2 separate regions of the Homo sapiens genome follow, and region 1 is linked to region 2. The links come from fine-mapping of genetic effects on gene expression. A gene starts in region 2. The other region holds a variant in brackets. All regions are shown on one strand. Distances are between the middles of the regions.

Region 1 (10,012 bases), 190 kb before region 2:
GTTTCTTACCCCCAACCCCTTAACCTTTAAAAAGAAGCAGCAGGAGAGGGGTTAGAAGCCACAGCCTGCGTGGCTGGAAGAAAGAGGCCAGGGGAGGGTGGTGGTCCACAGGTGTGAGCCTGCGCTGAGCCTCCTGGCGTGATTGGAACCCACAGTTCAGTCTGGCCCTTTGGGGTCGCCAACTGTGCCTTCCTCCCACCTGGCCCTGACGCTTTAGGGTGCAGCCCCAGGGAGGTACACCGAGGGGAGATTCCACCCAGAGACCTGGGGTGCCCACAGGATTGGCCTGGCCACACCTCCCCCAGGCGGTGTGGTGCCTCACCAGCCTGGACAGGGCAGCTGAGGTGGCACTGCTCTCCTGCTCACCTTCTCCCCAGGGCCTTGGTACGGGCCCCTCATCCGTCCCCGGTGGAACACACTCCAGTGCTGCCCCAGTCAGCCCAGCCTGATGCTTCTCTGGATACCACGCCAGTCGGGGCTCCTGGACACAGAGCCTTGGAAATACCATGTGGCTGCCCCATCCTTTGGTGTCCTGAACCTCAATTTCCCTCCATCCGGCCTCCACCTCGATTCCAAGCCCTAGTATTTCAGCTCTTTCTGGACACTGTGGTTATAGCTCCGCTTGCTGGTTTCCCACATCCCTGGCAGGCAAATGGCCAACCACAGAGAAGCCCCAGGCCCCCAGCCCCCTCTGCTGCCCCGGCATCCTGTGTCTTTAACACCGACAGACGCACCCTCACAAACCCACAGGAAAAATGACGGCACGGACAGAGGCCGTGAACCGGTGGCTCAGAAGGAAAAAGAAAACAAGACACAGGAAGACCATTCACCTCACGCCCGTCTCAAGAAACAAACCAACAAGACTCGGTTCACCGCTGCAGCGGCCCCACTGCGTTCTGTGGGCGTGGGCTGTGGACTGTGGAGCGGCAGTGGCCATCCAACACCCCCCTGTGCCCTCGCCACCTGGGAATCAGCCCGGTGGCTTCCTTTTTTTTTTATGGTTTAATCAATTCATTTATTTACTAGAAACAGGGTCCTGCCATGTTGCCCAGGCTGGTCTCCACCTCATGGGCTCAAGTGACCCACCTGCCTTGGTCTCCCACAGTGCTGGAACTACAGGCGCGAGCTGCCACACCCGGCCGGTTTCCCTGTGAAGGGCAAGTGAGTGCTGGCTGCCCCACTGCGTGGCGTGGCGTGGCGTGGCGTGGCTCCGTGGCACGGCCACCACCCTGTCTATGGGAGACTCCAGTTGTGTCCAGGGAGAAGGACGGAAAAGGTGACTCCATGCATGCCCACTGCAGGGAGGGCCTGAGATTAGGTAAATGGCGTGGCTTGTGTCCCCTTAAATTTAAATTCTTAGGCTGGAGTCCTAACCCCTAGTGCCTCAGAATGTGACCTTATATGGGCCGGGCACGGTGACTCATGCCTGTAATCCCAGCAGTCTGGGAGGCCGAGGGGGGTGGATCACCTGAGGTCAGGAGTTTGAGACCAGCCTGACCAACATGGTGAAACCCCGTCTCTACTAAAAATACAAAAATTAGCCAGGCATAGTGGCAGGCACCTGTAATCCCAGCTACTCGGGAAGCTGAGGCAGGAGAAGTGCTTGAACCCGGGAGACAGAGTTGCAGTGAGCAGAGATAGTGCCACTGCATTCCAGCCTGGGCAACAGAGCAAGACTCCATCTTGGAAAAAAAATAAAGAATGTGACCTTATGTGGAAACAGGGGCTTTTTAACATTTTTTTTGAGACAGAGTCTTGCTCTGTTGCCCAGGCTGGAATGCAGTGGTGCAATCTCGGCTCACTGCAACTTCTGCCTCCTGGGTTCAAGCAATTCTACTTTCTCAGCCTCTGGAGTAGCTGGGATTACAGGTACACGTCACCACGCTGAGCTTTTTTTTTTTTTCCTTGTATTTGTAGTAGAGACAGGGTTTCACCATGTTGATCAGGCTGGTCTCGAACTCCTGACCTCAGAAGATCTACCCACCTTGGCCTCCCAAAATGCTGGGAATACAGGTGTGAGCCACCGCACCCGGCTGAAATAGGGTCTTTATAGAAGTTATCAAGTTAAAATGTGGTGAGTAGGATGTGCCCTGATCCAATATGACTGATGTCAGTATAGAAAGGCGAGTTTGGACACAGATGCACAGGGAGGGCCGCAGGCAGAAATCAGGGTGGCACATCTGTAAGCCTGGGAGCCAAGCGGATGCTCTCCAAGGCCCTTGGGAGGAAGCAGCCCTGCCCAAGCCTAGGTGCTATGTCTGACCTCCAGACTGCTAGGCAGTGAGCTTCTGTTTTTTTTGTTTTTTTTTTTTAATGAGATGCAGTCTTGCTCTGTCGCCCAGGCTGGAGTGCAGTGGCACAATCTCGGCTCACTGCAAGTTCTGCCTCCCCAGGTTCACGCCATTCTCCTGTCTCAGCCTCCCAAGTAGCTGGGACTACAGGCGCCCGCTACCACACCTGGCTAATTTTTGTATTTTTAGTAGAGACGGGGTTTCACTGCGTTAGCCAGGATGGTCTCGATCTCCTGACCTCGTGATCCGCTCGCCTCGGCCTCCCAAAGTGCTGGGATTACAGGCGTGAGCTCCCGCGCCCCGCGGTGTTGTTGTTTTAAGATGGAGTCTCACTGTCACCCAGGCTGGAGTGCAATGGCTCAATCTCGGCTCATTGCAACCCGCGCCTCACCGGCTGAAGCGATTCTCCTGCCCCAGCCTCCCGAGTAGCTGGGATTACAGGCGCCCACCACCACGCCTGGCTAATTTTTGTATTTTTAGTAGAGACGGGGTTTCACCATGTTGGTCAGGCTGGTCTCAAACTCCTGACCTCAAGTGATCCGCCCACCTCGGCCTCCCAAAGTCAGTTTCTGTTGTTTTAAACCCCTCACTTTGTGGTCCTTTGCATGGCAGCGCCAGCAAGCTAATAAGTAAAGCAGGGAGAAGCCAGGAAATGGAAGAAAATCAGCATTAGGATCTGTCATTCTGAGTCTCTACTTGAACAGAGCTGAAAAAAGACGCAAGGAGCTGTCTGTGGGATGACCCCTGACAGGCAGAAACAGGCTTTCAGTTTTGCTTCCTGTCTGTCCACACTGTTTGCATTTTCTACCACATTTTTGTAATACCACATTTTCTACCACAATTTCATAATGTTTTGAAGTAAGAACAGTATCACAGCCACTAACCTTAACTAGACCCTGGTCCCCGAGGCCACGGGGTTATCCCTAAACCTCCCGTCCCCTGCAGCCCCTGCTCCTGATTCATAGAGCCAGCGTTAGAGGGGCCCAAGCTGAGGTCCCGAGGCTGCTGCTCTGGGACTGACTGACTGGTGGGTTAGAACTCTCTCCCTCCCCAACACCCCTCCCTGTAGGCCCCTTCCAAGGGGCT[CTTTT/C]TTTTTTTTTTTTTTTTTTTTTTTGAGACAGGGTTTCACTCTGTCACCCAGGCTGGAGTGCAATGGCGCAGTCATAGCTCACTGCAGCCTCCACCTCCTGGGCTCCAGTGATCCTCCTGCCTCCGCCTGCACAGGGCCACACCCCAGTGACATTTGAGCAGCTCTGTTCTGAAGGGAGACACACACCTGTTTGGGGGGCCGGAGGGCTGGGGGCATTGGGGTATTGGTGCAAACTTGTGCAGAGATTTATCTGCTCTGTGCATGGAGAGAGCCTAGAAGCAGTGAGACCTCGGGAGCGGTGAGACCTCGGGGGCGGCGAGACATCGGGGGCGGCGTGACCTCGGGGGCGGCGAGACCTCGGGGGCGGCGGGACCTCGGGGGCGGCGGGACCTCGGGGGCAGCGAGACCTCGGGAGCAGTGTGCAGACCAGAGCTCAGATTCTGGTCCCAAAGCCCATCTTCCCTAAAAGGAACCAGGGTTCTGCTAGGGACTGAATGTGTCCTCCCCAAAATTTGTGTGTTGAAACCCTGGCCCCTAGGCCAGGCACATGGCTCACGCCTGTAATCCCAGCACTTTGGGAGGCCGAGGTGAGTGGATCACCTGAGGTTGGGAGTTCCAGACCAGCCAGACCAAAATGGGGAAACCCTGTCTCTACTAAAAATGCAAAATTAGCCGGGCGTGGTGGCACATGCCTGTAATCCCAGCTACTCGGGAGGCTAAGGCAGGAGAATCGCTTGAACCTGGGAGGCAAAGTTTCCGGTGAGCCGAGATCACTCCATTGCACTCCAGCCTGGGTGACAAAGCGAGACTCTGTCTCAAAAAAAAAAAAAAAAACAAAACAAAACCCTGTCTCCTGCAAGGTGATGGTGTTAAGAAGTGGGGTTGGCTGGGCGCGGTGGCTCAAGCCTGTAATCCCAGCACCTTGGGAGGCCGAGGCAGGCGGATCACAAGGTCAGGAGATCGAGACCATCCTGGCTAACATGGTGAAACCCCATCTCTACTAAAAATACAAAAAATTAGCCGGGCGTGGTGTCAGGCGCCTGTAGTCCCAGCTACTCAGGAGGCTGAGGCAGGAGAATGGCATGAACCCAGGAGGCGGAGCTTGCAGTGAGCCAAGATTGCGCCACTGCACTCCAGCCTGGTGACAGATCGAGACTCAAAAAAAAAAAAAAAAAAAAGAAGCGGGGTCTTTTGGAGGTGGGTAGGTCATGAAGGTGACACCCTCGAGATGACCAGAATCAGCGCCCTCATAAAAGGGACCCCGGAGAGCTCCCTCGCTCCTCCTGCCAGGTGAGGAGTCAAGGGAAGTCCACAACCCAGAAGAGCCCTCGCCAGAACCCAGCCATGCTGGCGTCCCGACCTCGGACTTCGAGCCTCCAGAGCTGTGAGGCATGAATGCCACCCGTCCAGGGTCCTTTGCACAGCAGTCCTGGTCGGACTGAGACAGGCTCCTTGGAGAGAGGCTGATTCCAGGTGTGGGGCAGGGAAGGCAGGGACGCACTCAAAACACATCAGGAGCTGGTTACGAAGACACAGAAGCCGTGCTGGAGGGGCGCCTGCTGGAGGGGCACCGCTGGCTGGACCTCAGGCCATCTGAGCATAAGACAACAGTGGATTGTGCGTTATGAATGGTTAACGTGATAAATGTTACATAGATTTTACCACCATCAAAAAATTTTAAAAGAGCCAGATGCAGTGGCTCACCCCTGTAATCCCAACACTCTGGGAGGCTGAAGTGGGAGAATCCCTTGAGCTCAGGAGTTGAAGACCAGCCTGGGCAATATAGCAAGACCCTATCTATACAAAAATAAAAATAAAAATTAGTCGTGTGTGGTGGCACATGCCTGTAAGGAGGCTGAGGCAGGAGGATCACTTGAGCCCAGGAGTTGGAGGCTGCAGTGAGCTATGATTGCACCACCACACTCCAGCCTGGGTGACAGAGCAAGACCCTGTCTCAAAATAAGTAATTAAAAGATGACAGTAATGCATGTTAACACATTAATTTTTTTAAACCTGCAAGTCTGTACTGATAGACTTTTTAAAGTGGAGGGGCCCTTGGTGAGAGAGAAATGCCAGCCAGTAGATGCAGAAATGGAATAGAGGCAGGAAATGGCCATTTTGCAGCTGCTGGCCCTGGGTGACGGGGGTCGGGGGGCGCGGCCACGCAGCACCCAGATTGCGTTCCCACATCTAAGGGAGGGAGAACTGGGCCTCAACCAGGCGGCCACATTCAGCATCACCTGCTGAGGGACAGATGGACACCTGGAGGTGACCGACACAGCGTGTCCCAGTGCTGCTCCGGCCAAAAATGTCCAACCTGCATCCAGCCAGGAGGAAATGAAGACACATCCAGAGCTCAGCCTGGGCCTGCGGAGCCTGTCCCCCTGGAAGGGCAAGAACGCCAAGGCTGGGGACGGCTCAGAGGGGCCCCGGGGAAGGCAGCAAGACACAAGGAGTGCCTCGTGGTTGGATCCTGGATTTTTATTTCCTTTTTTTGTTTGTTTGTTTGAGACAGAGTCTCACTCTGTCGCTGAGGCTGGAATGCAGTGGCACAACCTCAGCTCACCGCAACCTCCACCTCCCAGGTTCAAGCGATTCTCCTGCCTCAGCCTCCCGAGTAGCTGGGATTACAGGCATGTGCCACCACACCCGGCTAATTTTGTATTTTCAGTAGAGACAGGGTTTCTCCATATTGGTCAGCCTGGTCTTGAACTCCCAACCTCAAGTGATCCACCCGCCTCGGCCTCTCAAAGTGCTGGGATTACAGGTGTGAGCAACCATGCCCAGCCTTTTCTTTCTTTCTTTTTTTTTTTTTTTTGAGACGGAGTCTCACTCTGTCACCCAGGCTGGAGCGCTGCTCACTGCAACCTCCGCCTCCCAGATTCTAGTGATTCTCCTGCCTCAGTCTCCCATGTAGCTGGGATTACAGGCGCTACAATGCCCAGCTAATTTTGTATATTTAGTAGAGATGGGGTTTCGCCATGTTGGCCAAGCTGAACTCCTGATTTCAGGTGACCTGCCTACCTCAGCCTCTCAAAGTGCTGGGATGACAGGCTTGAGCCACAGCACCTGGCTGATCCTGGTTTTTTGGAAAAACTCTAAAGAGCATGCCTAGGGCCGGGTGCAGTGGCTCACATCTGTCATCCCAGCACTTTGGGAGGCCGAGGCTGGGAGATCACCTGAGGTTGGGAGTTCGAGACCAGCCTGGCCAACATGGTGAAACCCCCATCTCTACTAAAAATACAAAAATTGGTCAGGCACGGTGGCTCACGCCTGCAATCTCAACACTTTGAGAGGCCGAGGCTAGGCGATCACCTGAGGTCAGGAGTTCAAGACCAGCCTGGCCAACATGGTGAAACCCCATCTCTACTAAAAATACAAAAATTGGCTGGGCATGGTGGCACACATCTGTAATCCCAACACTTTGAGAGGCCAAGGCTGGGTGATCACCTGAGGTCAGGAGTTCGAGACTGTGGGCGGCAAGCTACCCAGGCACCAAGGCAAGAGACCGAGGACATGAGCTGTTCCAGTATAATAAAATATAAAACAAGAATAGTTATACCAGATATAGAACTTAGATATGATTATATATGAATATCATTAATCATTAGTTTGTAGCAATTACTTTTTATTCCAATATTATAATAATCCTCGCTCTATAATCATAGCCTAGGAAAAACCAGGCCATACAGAGATAGGAGCTGAGGGGACATAGTGAGGTGTGACCGGAAGACAAGAGTGCGAGCCTTCTGTTATGCCCGGACAGGGCCACCAGAGGGCTCCTTGGTCTAGCGGTGACGCCAGCGTCTGGGAAGACGCCCGTTGCCAGGCGGACCGTGGTCCAGCGGTAGCAAAAGGTGTCAAGGAACAACACCCGCTACTTAGCAGACCAGGAAAGGGAGTCTCCCTGTCCCCGGGGGAGTTTAGAGAAGACTCTGCTCCACCTCTTGTGGAGGGCCTGACATCAGTCAGACCTGCCCGCAGTTATCCGGAGGCCTAACCGTCTCCTGTGATGCTGTGCTTCAGTGGTCACGCTCCTAGTCCGCCTTCATGTTCCATCCTGTACACCTGGCTCTGCCTTCTAGATAGCAGTAGTCAATTAGTGAAAATACTAATAGTCCCTGATATGCAGAAATAATGGCATAAGCTGTCTTTCTCTCTGTCTCTTCTCTCTCTCTCTGCCTTGGCTGCCAGGCAGGGAAGGGCCCCCGTCCAGTGGACACGTGACCCACGTGACCTTACCTATCATTGGAGATGGCTCACACTCCTTATCCTGCCCCTTCTGCCTTGTATCCAATAAATAACAGTGCAGCCAGACATTCGGGGCCACTACTGGTCTCCACGCATTGGTGTTAGTGGTCCCCCGGGCCCAGCTGTCTTTTATCTCTTTGTCTTGTGTCTTTATTTCTACACTGTCTCGTCACCGCACATGGGGAGAGACCCACCGACCCTGTGGGGCTGGTCCCTACACGAGACCAACCTGGCCAACATGGTGAAACCCCATCTCTACTAAAAATACAAAAATTGGCCAGGCGCGGTGGTTCACACCTGTCATCCCAGCACTTTGGAAGGCTGAGGCTGGGGCAATCACCTGAGGTCAGGAGTTAGAGACCAGCCTGGCCAACATGGTGAAACCTCATCTCTACTAAAAACACACACACACACACAAAAATCAGCCGGGCATGGTGATGCGCGCCTGTAGTCCTAGCTACGCAGGAGGCTGAGGCAGGAGAATGGTGTGAACCCGGGAGGCGGAGCTTGCAGTGAGCCGAGATTGTGCCCCACTCCAGCCTGGGCAAGAGAGTGAGACTCCGTCTCCTCAAACAAATAATAATAAAAAATAAAAAAGGGCATGCCTGGGCCACCGGGGCCCTGAAAAGCCTTGCTGTACCCTTTGTTAACTCTGGGCTACCCTGGCGGCTCTTGGGGGAAGGAGGCTGCAGGGCCGGGGCTGGCAGGTCACAGCTGCTTGCTTTCACATGGGGCAGCACAAAAGTGGGTAGAGCGACGGTGCGTGTGGCAAGATTTCACAGGCGCATCGGCTGAAGATGCGGCGTGCGCTCTGCTATTCTCGCAACTTTCCTGAAAGTTTAAAATGTTCTTTTTGCTGTTGTTTTGAGACAGAGTCTCACTCTGTCATCCAGGCTGGAGTGCAATGGCACGATCTTGGCTCACTGCAGCCTCTACCTGCCAGGTTCAAGTGATTCTTCTGCCTCAGCCTCCCGAGCAGCTGGGAATACAGGCGCCCACCACCACACCCAGCTAATTTTTGTAGTTTTAGTAGAGATGGGGTTTCACCATGTTGGCCAGGCTGGTCTCGAACTCCTGACCTCAGATGATCCACCTGCCTCGGCCTCCCGAAGTGCTGGGATTACAGGCGTGAGCCACCGTGCTCGGCGGAAAATGTTCTGAGGAAGATGCTGGGGGGTGTGTTTGCTTTCAATGCTGCATTACACATCATGAAAATGAAACCTCTAGGGACGATGCCCCCGTGAACTGTGTCAGTCTGTGGGCGGCTGTCCAGGTCCAGCCTGGCCTGGTCCTGCGCGCAGGGTCTCCCTGGGCCTCGGCTGGGCCGTGTTCCTTTCTCGACCTCTTTCTGCCATGATTCAGCCCCTACAGTTGCAGGACGGAGGCTGCTGCGGCCTCCTGCCTTCTGGCGGCTCCCCCACGCATTTCCCTTGGCCGACCACCAAACCCACACCAGCCCCTCCAGTGAGCCACTGTTCCTCTCGGTTCTTCCAGAGTGAACCGCCCCCAGGGCCCAGGACAGCTTCACCCCAGTGACCCAGCCTCTCAGGGACTCCAGCATGGTCATCCCACTGCCTCTCAGGTGGTCACAGTGAGTGCCTCATAGGAACCCAAGTGGATGTGTTGGCCCAGCCCACCCAGTGCCCTCAAGCCCATGGGCCCCTCCCCTGTTGTCCCCCATGTGGCACCAGCCCTCAGTGAGTCCACCCTCTACCCTCCTGAGGAGCCTTGAAACGGCCTAAGGCAAGAGTCTGAACTTGGCCCAGATCACGGGGCGTGAGCTCTGGGGGCCATTCATGCCCCTCCCCCATCTCCTGCCCACAGTGTGCCAGGCTCCACCGCTGATGAGCCTCAAAGCTTCCAGGTCCTGCCTCCCTGGGGCCTTGGCCTGTGCCCTGCCCTCTGGCTGGGATGCCCTTCCCTTAAGGAATCTTCACAGACTTCGGTCTCCTCCTGGAGGTCGCCTCTTCCTGGAAGCCCTCGCTGTCCCTTCCATGACACGGAGACAGCCTAGCCCAGGCTGCTGCAGGCCCCACGTGGGCAGCAAGGGGTGAAGGAGGCTTAGAGAGGGCAGGTGGACGGGAAGATGAAGGCTAAGGGGAAGGGGGCCGGGAGCAACCCCTGAGGGTGGGATGAGGGGGACAGTGAACCATGGTGAACCACCCTGCCTCAGTTTCCCTCCTCCAGACCGACCCAGCCACCCCCTGCCAGCACCTGTGCCTGAGGGGCAGGGCCTTCTGGAGCGCTAACCCACCTGATGCGCCCATCCTCCCCACCCTTCCCAACCCACACACGCAGACCCGCAGACATTTTGTTTATTTATTTAAAACAAACATCTGTGCGCTATGTACAGGCCCGGCTCCCAGGGAGGTGGGCGGGC
Region 2 (10,012 bases):
CTGGAGATGGGGAGGCTGAGGAAGGGCTGTGGTGGGCCTCTGGCAGCTGCACACAGAGGGCACGGTGACACCGTGTGACAAGGACAGGTGCCCGGCACGGGCAAGAGGAAAGGAAAGAGCCTCGGGCCTGATCCCGTGCACTCAGCCCAGCCGGGGGAGACCTTGTGTCCTGACGGCCGAACACACCCTCCGGCTGCCCCCCAGGACCACGAGGAGCTCAGCAGGATGCCCAGGGTCCCAGTGGCTCCTGGGCCAGCTGCAGCCCTCACCTCAGGTAGCGGCGGATAGGCTCACAGGCCACCTCCAGGATGACCATGGAAGGGTCCAGCACGCGCAGCGCCTTGATGGCAGAGATATAGAGGGTGATGATGTCACACGTGTTGACGCCTACAGCCAGGGCAGAAGCCAGCAGTCATGCAGTGCCCGGGACCACAGCCTCCCAGGGGCAACACCCGAGTAGACAGCTGGCCATGCCGGTAGGTGGTCTACAGGTCCCCACTGCAGCCTCGTTCCCTTGTCCCCCCATCCCCACCTCTACCTGTTCACAGGTCCCGCCCTGCAGGGAGGTCTGTTCTGAGAGAACTAAGTCTCATCACCTCAGACCTACCGGTCAGTCCTGACTCCCTCCAAAGAAGAAACAAGCAAGCTGACGGGCACCTCAGATCCCCTAAGGACCTCACCAATTGCTTCTCAACCCATTTCTTCCTTAGACCTACAAGTCCAGGGCTGGCAGACTAGGCCCCAGGCTCCCTGGACATGGGTCCCCTGGTGAGTGTCTAAGCCCAGAGTGCTGGGTGGCCGGGCAGCACACAGCACCTGGATGCAGGAGCCGAGTCTCCAGGGCAGCCTTGAGGGACACGAGCAGCTGCTGCCTCTGGTCCGTCCTCTCCAGGCAGTACTTGAGGTCCTCGATGGCTGGCCGGGAGTCTGGGAAGTCTACAAGAAGAAGAACATCCCTCAGGGACAGACATGGATGCGTGCGCACGTGCAGGCTGGTGCAGAGTGTGTGCGGTGTGGGAAAGGACACGTGCTTGCCAGCCCCAGGACGATGATGAGACCACCTGCTAGGCACCAGACATCCCCCCGACACTCTGGCGTGCTGATGCATTTGACCACAATGCCACAGGGTGGACAGAGCAACACCCAGGGGCCAGTCCCCAGCAGGAGCCAAGGCCAAGGCAGCACAGCAGTGGACACCCAGAAGCACTGTCCAGCATCTGCCACACCTGCCCTGATCCAGGCACGGGGGACGCCGCAGTGGGGACAGTCCCAGCACTGCCCGGTGCACCCCCCTGCAAGAGCGACAGCGAAGGCACAGGGAGCCCCAGACGTGGACACAGGGAGCCCAGATGCAGACACAGAGCCGACATGGCGAAGGCCCTGGGAGCCCCAGATGCAGACACAGAGCAGACACGGCGAAGGCACAGGGAGCCCAGACGCAGACACAAGGAGCCCAGACACAGACACAGAGCAGACACGACGAAGGCCCTGGGAGCCCCAGATGCAGACAAAGAGCAGACACGGTGAAGGCACGGGGAGCCCAGACGCAGACACAGGGAGCCCAGACGCAGACACAGAGCAGACACGGTGAAGGCACAGGGAGCCCAAGACGCAGACACAGAGCAGACACGGCGAAGGCACAGGGAGCCCAGATGCAGACACAGAGCAGACACAGCGAAGGCCCTGGGAGCCCCAGACGCAGACACAGGGAGCCCAGACGCAGACAGAGCAGACACGGCGAAGGCCCTGGGAGCCCCAGACGCAGACAGAGCAGACACGGTGAAGGCACAGGGAGCCCAGACGCAGACACAGGGAGCCCAGACGCAGACACAGAGCAGACACGGCGAAGGCACAGGGAGCCCAAGACGCAGACACAGGGAGCCCAGACGCAGACACAGAGCAGACACGGCAAAGGCCCTGGGAGCCCCAGACGCAGACACAGAGCAGACACGGTGAAGGCACAGGGAGCCCAGATGCAGACACAGAGGAGACACGGGGAAGGCCCTGGGAAGACTCCCCAGACGGGAGAGCGGACCCCAGGGCCGGGGCAGGACCACCTCGGACGATGCTGAAGAGCTCCTCGATGCGCAGGCTGGCGTAGATGCGGTAGAAGAACCTTTGCACGTGGCAGCGCCAGCGGCGCAGGGTGTTGCCGGCCTCGGGAGATGCGGGCCTGGCGGGGCCGTCCTGCAGGAACACCTTGCCGAGCCAGCCGACCACCCGCTCGATCCACTGTCAGGAGAACGCTAGTGTGAGCTGCAGGGAGGCATGGTGAGCCCCGGGCTGACTCAGAGGCTGGGAGGAGCCTCACGGCCACCCACCCTGTCGGCCGGGACCGAGGGGAGCCCGAAGGCCACCTGCGTCTGGAGGCTGGAGCACATCAAAACCTGCAGGGTGGGTGATGGCCCAAAAGGCGACGTCCCGGCCCCCCTGCAGTCTTCGTGCCTCTCACACGCGCCAGTGCCCACACTTATCACTGGCAGCAGCAACCCTAGCGTGAGACATGACAGACACACACGACCTGTGCGCTGTGCCTGGTGGGCACACTTGCCCCCACTTAAATGGATAAACACGCCCTTGAGACCAGCCGGGGGGCCCAGGCGAGCACAAACCTCTAGGTGGCAATTCCGCCGCGGGGCCCAGGCGTGCTCATGCCCCACAGACCTGCTACCCAGTGGCAAGACCGCACGGATGTTCACCCTCTCCACCCTACTACCCACTCTTGCCCACCGCTTTGGGGACACCCTCCCTCTTTGAAAACCCAACATCACAGCCAATCTGCACCTCAGTAGGGGGACTCTGAAACACTGAGGAAAGGACAGGTGACACATGGGAACAGGATGGGGGGACCCACATGGCTGGGCCCAGCTCCCCTATGGCTCCGGGAGCCCAGAGCAGAGCCCCAGACCACACCCCAACAGCACAGGTGCCTGGAGGCCCCATGTGAGGGTGTCTCGCTCCCCGCTGTGGTGCAGGCTGGCTGTAGGTCAGTCCATTAGGGACCGGCCAAGCGAGTCCACACTCAAGTAGGGCAGCAAACAGGAGAAGGGGATCCATTCAGTGGCTCCTCTGGTGGGCCCAGCTTCGCCACACCTGCCTGAGGTAGCCCCCTCGGGATCCTGGCCCGATACCGCCTGCAGCCATGGGATTCTGCGCAGATCCGAAGAGCGCACCTCAGATGCGTCCTCGCTATCACCAGGGCCCAGAAGTACTGGTCTCTACCCCACATCAAGACAGCTCCAGCCACCACCCGGTCTGGGCCCACCCAGGCCTCCGTGCTCTGGATGCTTCTGAAGCCAGGTGTCAGGTTTGCCAGAAACCTACTCCCCTGTCTCCAGCGGGGCACAGCCCAAGGGAGGGGTCCTCACCTTGTGGAACTCACGCAGGAAGGAGCGCTCGTACTCGCCCCGGCAACGGTCCTCCATCCTCTCCCGGGTCACCTGGTGCAGGGTGGTGGTCACAGCCTCGGCACTGACCCGCTCCAGCAGACTGAGCCTGTGTCTAGAGGAGAGCCCTGGCCATGGGGCACCCAGAGCACACACCGGCCCCTCTAGCCCAGAACAGCCCCATGCCAGGACTGCCCTGCCTGTAGAGTGCATGCAGCACACACACACACACACACCCAGCACACACCTCCCCACAATCCTCAGCTGTGGGGGGCGGTTGTACCAAAGGCTTCAAGAAGCCACTGGGAGCACAGAGCACTCCCAGGCTCTGCTGTCCCCGCCCAGCTGGCCTCTATCCAGGTAGGGACACTGGCCTTCCCCATGTGATCAGTGGCAGCAGGTGTGGCTGTCGGGGGCCCTAGCCTTATCTCCTAGGATCAACTCTGAAACGACAACCAACTGCACTGCTACCCTGGCCGCAGAGGTACAGATGCCACTGTTTGTGCCTTTCAGTGCAGTCTCTGGTCTACAGTGACAAAAGGACTCAAGAGGAGGATGAGAAAAGTTGCCGTGTAACTTTTGCAGGGATGAGCCCAACAGAAGCCCTTCACGGTCTCCCTGACCCCTGCCAGCAAAAGGAGCACTCCTTTAGTCCACCTTTAGTCCACCTAAGACCTCTCAAGTAGCTGCATGGCTACACCCCCGTTCAATGTGACAAAACCACCACAAATGGCCAAGGGTATGACAATTGCTAGAGAACTACAACAGGACCTGTCTCTCACAACAAACCCCTCTCCTCTCCAAACTAACAAGAGACTGCTTGCCCTCACAGTGACCTGATCTTCCTGGAGAGAAGCAGCAGCAAGCTTCTGTTCACAATTACAGGGCAAGGAATGTCGACGAGGGTGAGAATCATTCCTCCCCAGGATCGACAAAAGGCACAGTGGAATTCTGCAGAGTCCAGGAAGTTTGGAGTTGCTAAGAAATTTGCTGCTGCAGACACAAGCCACATAGGGCCTTACCAGGGTCAAGGCATGAATCTGTGGGACTGAAGGTGAGTGACAGAAGAGAGACACCTGTGTCCAGGACACGCTGCACAGGAATCCCTGGGACTCTCTCTCTGTCATGTTCCTGGTTATCAGGACGGCTCACCAGCTTTCTGCTGAGGCCAGCTGGACCCAGGGGAGCAGCGGGGAACCAGAAGGAGCAAGGGCATGGCCATCGGGACAGACTACTCACAAGACCTGGCTGAGCTGATGGAACTGCTCCAGAGCCTGGCGACACCAGCACTGTTGCTTGTCACTGCTGCACCCTGCACACAGCGGGCTCTGCAGGAGCCGGTAGTACCGGCGACGGGCATACCGGCTGTCCAGCTCCCCTTCCAGTTCCGGGTCTGTGCCCCCTTCCCCCTTCCTCTTACTCTGCATATAGACTCTCAAGAAGCACCCATACAGACGCTGGATCATCTCTTGGAAGGTTCTGGGGGTGCTAAAGAACAAGACTCCGCGCAACATAGTGTGGACTTCTTCTCGCAGCCCCTGAGCACCAGTGCCCATCAGCAAGCCCAGGCGAGTCCATTTCTCCAGCAGCTCTAGGCTACGCAGGTAGGGATCCAGGCGGCTCTCCAGCAGGCCAAAAGCGTCAAGGAGTAGCAAAAGGCACTGGGGCTCATCCGCAGAGTTCTCGCATTGGGAGATGGCATTCCAGAACTCAGGGGAGATGTTGGCCTGCAGATCGTTCTGCAGCACCTCCACGAACCACTCCTCCAGGACCGAGTGTAGCCCGTGGCCCCTCAGAACCTCCACCGCCGCCCGGAGCTCCTCTTCCTTTGGCGGGACTGCACCGCTGGTCCGGGAAGACACCTGGGGTGCAGAAAACCGTGAGGCGAGGGGAACACAACATAGAGGTGGGGAGAGGCGGGGAAGGGAAGAAGCTGAGGGGGAGGCTGCAAAAACTCCGCTGCCCCCTGTCCGTGCTGCCCGGACGTTGGGCCGAAGCTATGGAAGGGCTGTCAGCGGAGCTGAACGAAACGAAACGGAAAGGTGGTGGAAAATGGCAGGACAGGACAGAGGCGGATGATGGACAGAGCCGTATGAACCCGAGGGTAGCGGCCCCAAAGCGCGTACGGTCCCGGAAACTCCGCGCGGGGCCGCCCCTCTCTTCCCAGGCCTCACCAGCCCCAGCGCAGCCGGCGGCACCAGGCCGGTGCTCACGGTGTTCCAGGCCACTAACAACTCCTGTCCGGGCCGGGAGTCGCTGTCCCCCTCCGCCACCACAACTGCCGCCGCCATCTGCACCCACCGACTCCGAGATTCGCTCGGCGCGGCGCGCGGCGATGACGCACGTCTGCACGCGCAGCCATGACGCGCACAAGGCGCTCAGCGATGACGCGCTAGTTCGGCGCGCCGTGGGGGAGTCGTGCGCAGGCGCGGACAGCGCTGCTTCCGCGGCGGTTGGGGTGGTGGGGCCCCGGGCGGCGTTGACCATGACCCAGCAGGGCGCGGCGCTGCAGAACTACAACAACGAGCTGGTCAAGTGTGAGCGGCGCAGCCGGGACGGGGAGGTCGGGAGGGCCGCAGGGCCGGGTTCCCGGCTCGCAGCGGGGTGCCCCTGGACCCGCCTCGCTGCGGGCATCGCGCGGCTGAGCAGAGCCCTCCGTGCCGGAGGCCGGGTGTCCGTGGCCCGAGCCCTCGCTGGCTCGCAGGCCCCGCGCCGGGCGCTCGGGGGTGGTGCCTGACTCTGGCTTCCTCGGGTGGAAGGAGGCCCGCCCTCCGCCGCCGCGCTCCTGCCCTGGGCCCACAGCGCCGCCCCTCCCGGCCCCCAGGCATAGAGGAGCTGTGCCAGAAGCGGGAGGAGCTGTGCCGGCAGATCCAGGAGGAGGAGGACGAGAAGCAGCGGCTGCAGAATGAGGTGAGGCAGCTGACAGAGAAGCTGGCCCGCGTCAACGAGAACCTGGCACGCAAGATTGCCTCTCGCAACGAGTTCGACCGGACCATCGCGGAGACGGAGGCCGCCTACCTCAAGGTGGAGCTCGGGAGGCCAGGCCGAGCATCAGGGGATAGGCACGGCAGGGGTGTTGCCACGGCAAGGCGTCAGGACCGGCTGGGGCTCCCGGCTGTGGGCAGTCTGTGCCTCGCTGGCATTTCGGGCAGGGGCAGCGTGGCCAGGCCCATTGAGGAACCCAGGCTGCTGTGGGAGTGACTGTGGGGCTGTCTGTGGGGCCTGGGGCATCCTGGGTCCTGGTCTTTATCCGGTTCTCGCTAGCCATGTGGTTATTTCTGCTCAGTGTGAAGAGCCAGGTCTTGGGCAGAGCACCCAGCACGGGCCAGTGCTAACCCAGCCTGGCTTTGAGGGTGGAGAGGAAGTGTTTTGGGTCAGATTCCGGAGGGAAGAGGGCCCTGCCACCCCGTCTGCCAGTCCCCTTGGGCTTCCGCCTTCCCCCACACAGGATCCCTTGGCTACAGCACCCCCAGCCAGGTCCCAGCACCTGAGTGTGAGGACAGCTGGGGCTTAGGACCTTACCAACAGGTGAACATTAACAACCTTCTCACTTCTCTGGCCCCAGATCCTGGAGAGCTCCCAGACTTTGCTCAGCGTTCTCAAGAGGGAAGCTGGGAACCTGACCAAGGCTACAGCCCCAGACCAGAAAAGTAGCGGCGGCAGGGACAGCTGACCAGACCACGGGCAGGGCCTGCCTCCGTGTGCCCCTCAGCTCAGCCCCAGCAAGTGTGTGCTCAGAGCATCTTTGTTCTTCACGGCAGCAGCTACCTTCCCTCACTGTCTCAGGTGCCGAGAGGGGCAGGTGCCAGCCTCCACTGGCATCAGTGACAAGCCCAGGGCACAGCCCACCCGGGGGTCCTCGCTTCATGCTCACACAGGCTATGGGGATGGTGGGCTCCAGGTCAGCTCTGCAAGGGGCTTGTCTCTGTGGCACCCACACTCCTGCCCTGCCAGGGAGGCTCTGGTTGTCTGAGCACCATGGGGGCCCCCTCACCTTGTCCCTCCTCAGCCAGCAGAGGCCCAGGGCAAGGGACAGGAGGACAGGGGTTCTCCTTCACCACAGAACCCAAACCTCAGGTCTCACCCCTGTGGCCTGTGATTATGAATAAAGATTATCTTTGTAAAGATCCGTGCCAGCCTGCTGCTTGCCCGTATCAACAGCATGGGGCTGCCAGACACCTGCAGAGCCAGAGCCTGAGGCTCCCCCTTGGGAGAGGAGGGAGGAGGGTCTGGAGTGGCCTCCCTGTGACTGCCCCACTAGCCTCAGGGACACCGCTGAGGGTGCCCACCCTCCCCAGGCCAGCCCCACCCTGAGCCCTCCCCAGCAGGGCCGCCGGTCCTCTTCCCCTGACTGGCCCACGGCTCACCCTCCTCTCAGGAGCTCTGCTTGCTCGTCCTGTTCTCTGCCACACCCTGGTGGCCAGCATAGGACCCAGCCCAGAGAGACAGCTGGGGATGCCAAGCATATCCAGCAGCTGCCTCAGATTCAGGTCCCTCTCAGCAAGGACTGGGGGGAGTTCACACCCCCCACCCCCGTCGGTTCCTCAGTTGCAAGTTTTGCTTGGCCTGATGACACCACTGCTGCCACCAGGCCCTGCTGCCCACCTTTCCCTGGCCGCACACCAAGCACTGGCCACTTCCATCCTTCCATGTGCCCTGGGGCCTCTGTTTTGTCCCTGCAGCAACCAAGCATGGCCCGAGGACTGGGCCGATTTGGGAGGCATGTGTTGATCCAGAGGGTCCAGAAAAGAGCTGGGCCTAACCCGACCAGGGAAATACACCAAACTCTCCTTCCGCCGGAGTTTGGCCAGACAGCATCTCTTTATCTCTTTGCTCTTAGGTTTGATCCTCCAGGGAGGAAATGGTGCTTGGGTTCCATGGGCTGTAAACAGCCCCAGCTCTGGCCGTCTGAGGCAGGCGCTGCTCCCGGCCTGCCTCATCCTGTGGGTCGGGGGGCACGCCAAGCCCAGCAGAAGACACCGTCCCCTGTGCTGCCCTCATGCTGCCCTTCCCTTGGTCCCTCCCCAGGCTCTGGGCCCCTCAGAGAAGCCACTTCAGGCCCAACAGCTGCAACACTCTCACCCTCCCACCTGAAGTCTAGGCCCCTGACAGCAGGCCTGTCATCCTACCTCCCACAGTGCCAGCTCTGGGAGGCTGGGGTGGAGGGGCAACAGGTTAACAGGCCATGGAAGTTGGGAGGTCAGAGCCTTGGCCACTGGGACATCAAGGAGTGGGGGTACCAGATCGGGGTCACCTCCCACACACCCTGGCATAGACGTGCAAACTGGGGCCCACTGGACCCCATGTGGCCTCTTCCTGCAGAGACCTCCCCCTGCTCCCTTCTCAGCCAAGGACCACGCAGTGGGGACACCAGCAGCCTTGTCCAGTGCTGTTTATTGAGTCCATCATCAGAGGCAGGAAAGACGCCACTCATCACAGAGGGCATGTGGGCTGCGGGCAGGGGCTTAGGGTCCTGCAGAGGACAAGTAGCTGGGACAGCCCTTCACCCCGACACCCCATGGCCACTGTGAGGCAGGCTGAGGAGACAGGACAGGGAATGGCCAGGTGCAGAATCTGCACAGCCCCCTGCCGGGTCGCAGATGGCCACCACCCAGCAGGCCCCTGGCACTCACCCACAGGCAGTTCCCCACCCCACTTCCCCCTTGGACCCTCCCAAATCAGGGCCGGGGAGTGAGACCCAGACCTGGCCCCGATGGCAGGAGGCACCCTAGCTGCTTCCAGGGCCAGGAGGGGTGGGTGGGATACAGTGAGGCCAAACAAGGCAGAAGCGGGTGCAGTAGTCCCTGGCTACTGCCCAGCTTCCGGGACTCCCACAGCTGGGCTCAGCCTTGGTCCTGGCAGTGCTGGGCTCAGAAATACAGGGCTGGCTCGCTGCGGAAGTCCGAGAGGTCATTCTGACTGGCGGGTGTGAGCTGAAAGTGAGAGGACAGAATGTGGACACATGGGCTCGCCCGGGTGTCAGACTCCCCCCAGCGCTCCACTCCCCCGCATCTCACCATGGCCTCCACGGGCGGGGGCTCTGCCTCCCTCGGGGCCTGCTCCAGCGCCTGCTCCTGCCACTTGCTGAAGGCCACAGAGTGCTTCGGGGTGTAGCTGGACAGGCCTGTGAATGGAGGTGCACATGCAGACGTGGACACAGACCAGGCTCCACCCCTCCCAGGCTGCCTGTCCCCCAGGTGGGCACTCACCTGAGCTACCCTCTGGCAGCCGAGAGCTCTCGGGTCTCACGCTGCTCACAAACGTGGCCCGGGGCAGGAAGAGTGCAAAGGGCTTCTCCTCTGAGCCGGATCCCTCTTCCTCCTCTTCCTCTTCCTCCTCCTCCTCCTCCTCCTCCTCCTGCTGGTCCACCTCTTCCTCCTGCTCTAGGGAGCTCTCGGAAGGGTACTCAAATGTGGTCTGCAGGCTTTTGTCGTTGAAGGAGATCTTCATCTGGGAGTGAGAGTCACGTGAACGAGGGCTGAGGGCCCACATGGGCACAGTGATGCCAGGGGCTCAGGTTCAGCCCTCAGGATGAGGCTGACCCAAGTGGGGCGCCAGACACACCATCAACCGTTCCGGGGGCTCCAGGAGGGGGCACAGAGCTCTCCAGCTGGACCCTGCAGGCG

What was found. PIP is the estimated chance that this variant, and not a neighbour inherited with it, causes the effect.
Region 1: its variant is fine-mapped to the expression of ANAPC2 in whole blood (INTERVAL, PIP 0.98).

What each region holds. Positions count from the first base shown.
Region 1 is chr9:136,997,297-137,007,308 of GRCh38, forward strand. ABCA2 (ATP binding cassette subfamily A member 2) reads right to left here. Exons shown (of 49, transcript NM_001606.5): 49 at 9,938-10,012. Among named protein-coding and RNA genes, the nearest start is that of CLIC3, 5.7 kb to the left of the region's middle. RefSeq lists an enhancer at 2,870-2,989. The variant CTTTT/C (reference allele first, on the strand shown) is at 3,378.
Region 2 is chr9:137,182,856-137,192,867 of GRCh38, forward strand. It overlaps ANAPC2 (anaphase promoting complex subunit 2), which reads right to left and starts at 5,705. Exons shown (of 13, transcript NM_013366.4): 1 at 5,561-5,705; 2 at 4,626-5,248; 3 at 3,369-3,501; 4 at 2,058-2,232; 5 at 817-936; 6 at 270-387. The coding sequence starts at 5,677. It overlaps SSNA1 (SS nuclear autoantigen 1), which reads left to right and starts at 5,821. Exons shown (of 3, transcript NM_003731.3): 1 at 5,821-5,923; 2 at 6,211-6,410; 3 at 6,952-7,511. The coding sequence starts at 5,872. The coding sequence ends at 7,059. It overlaps TPRN (taperin), which reads right to left. Exons shown (of 4, transcript NM_001128228.3): 2 at 9,596-9,836; 3 at 9,404-9,510; 4 at 8,764-9,319. The coding sequence ends at 9,257. RefSeq lists an enhancer at 5,613-5,832 and a silencer at 5,863-6,212.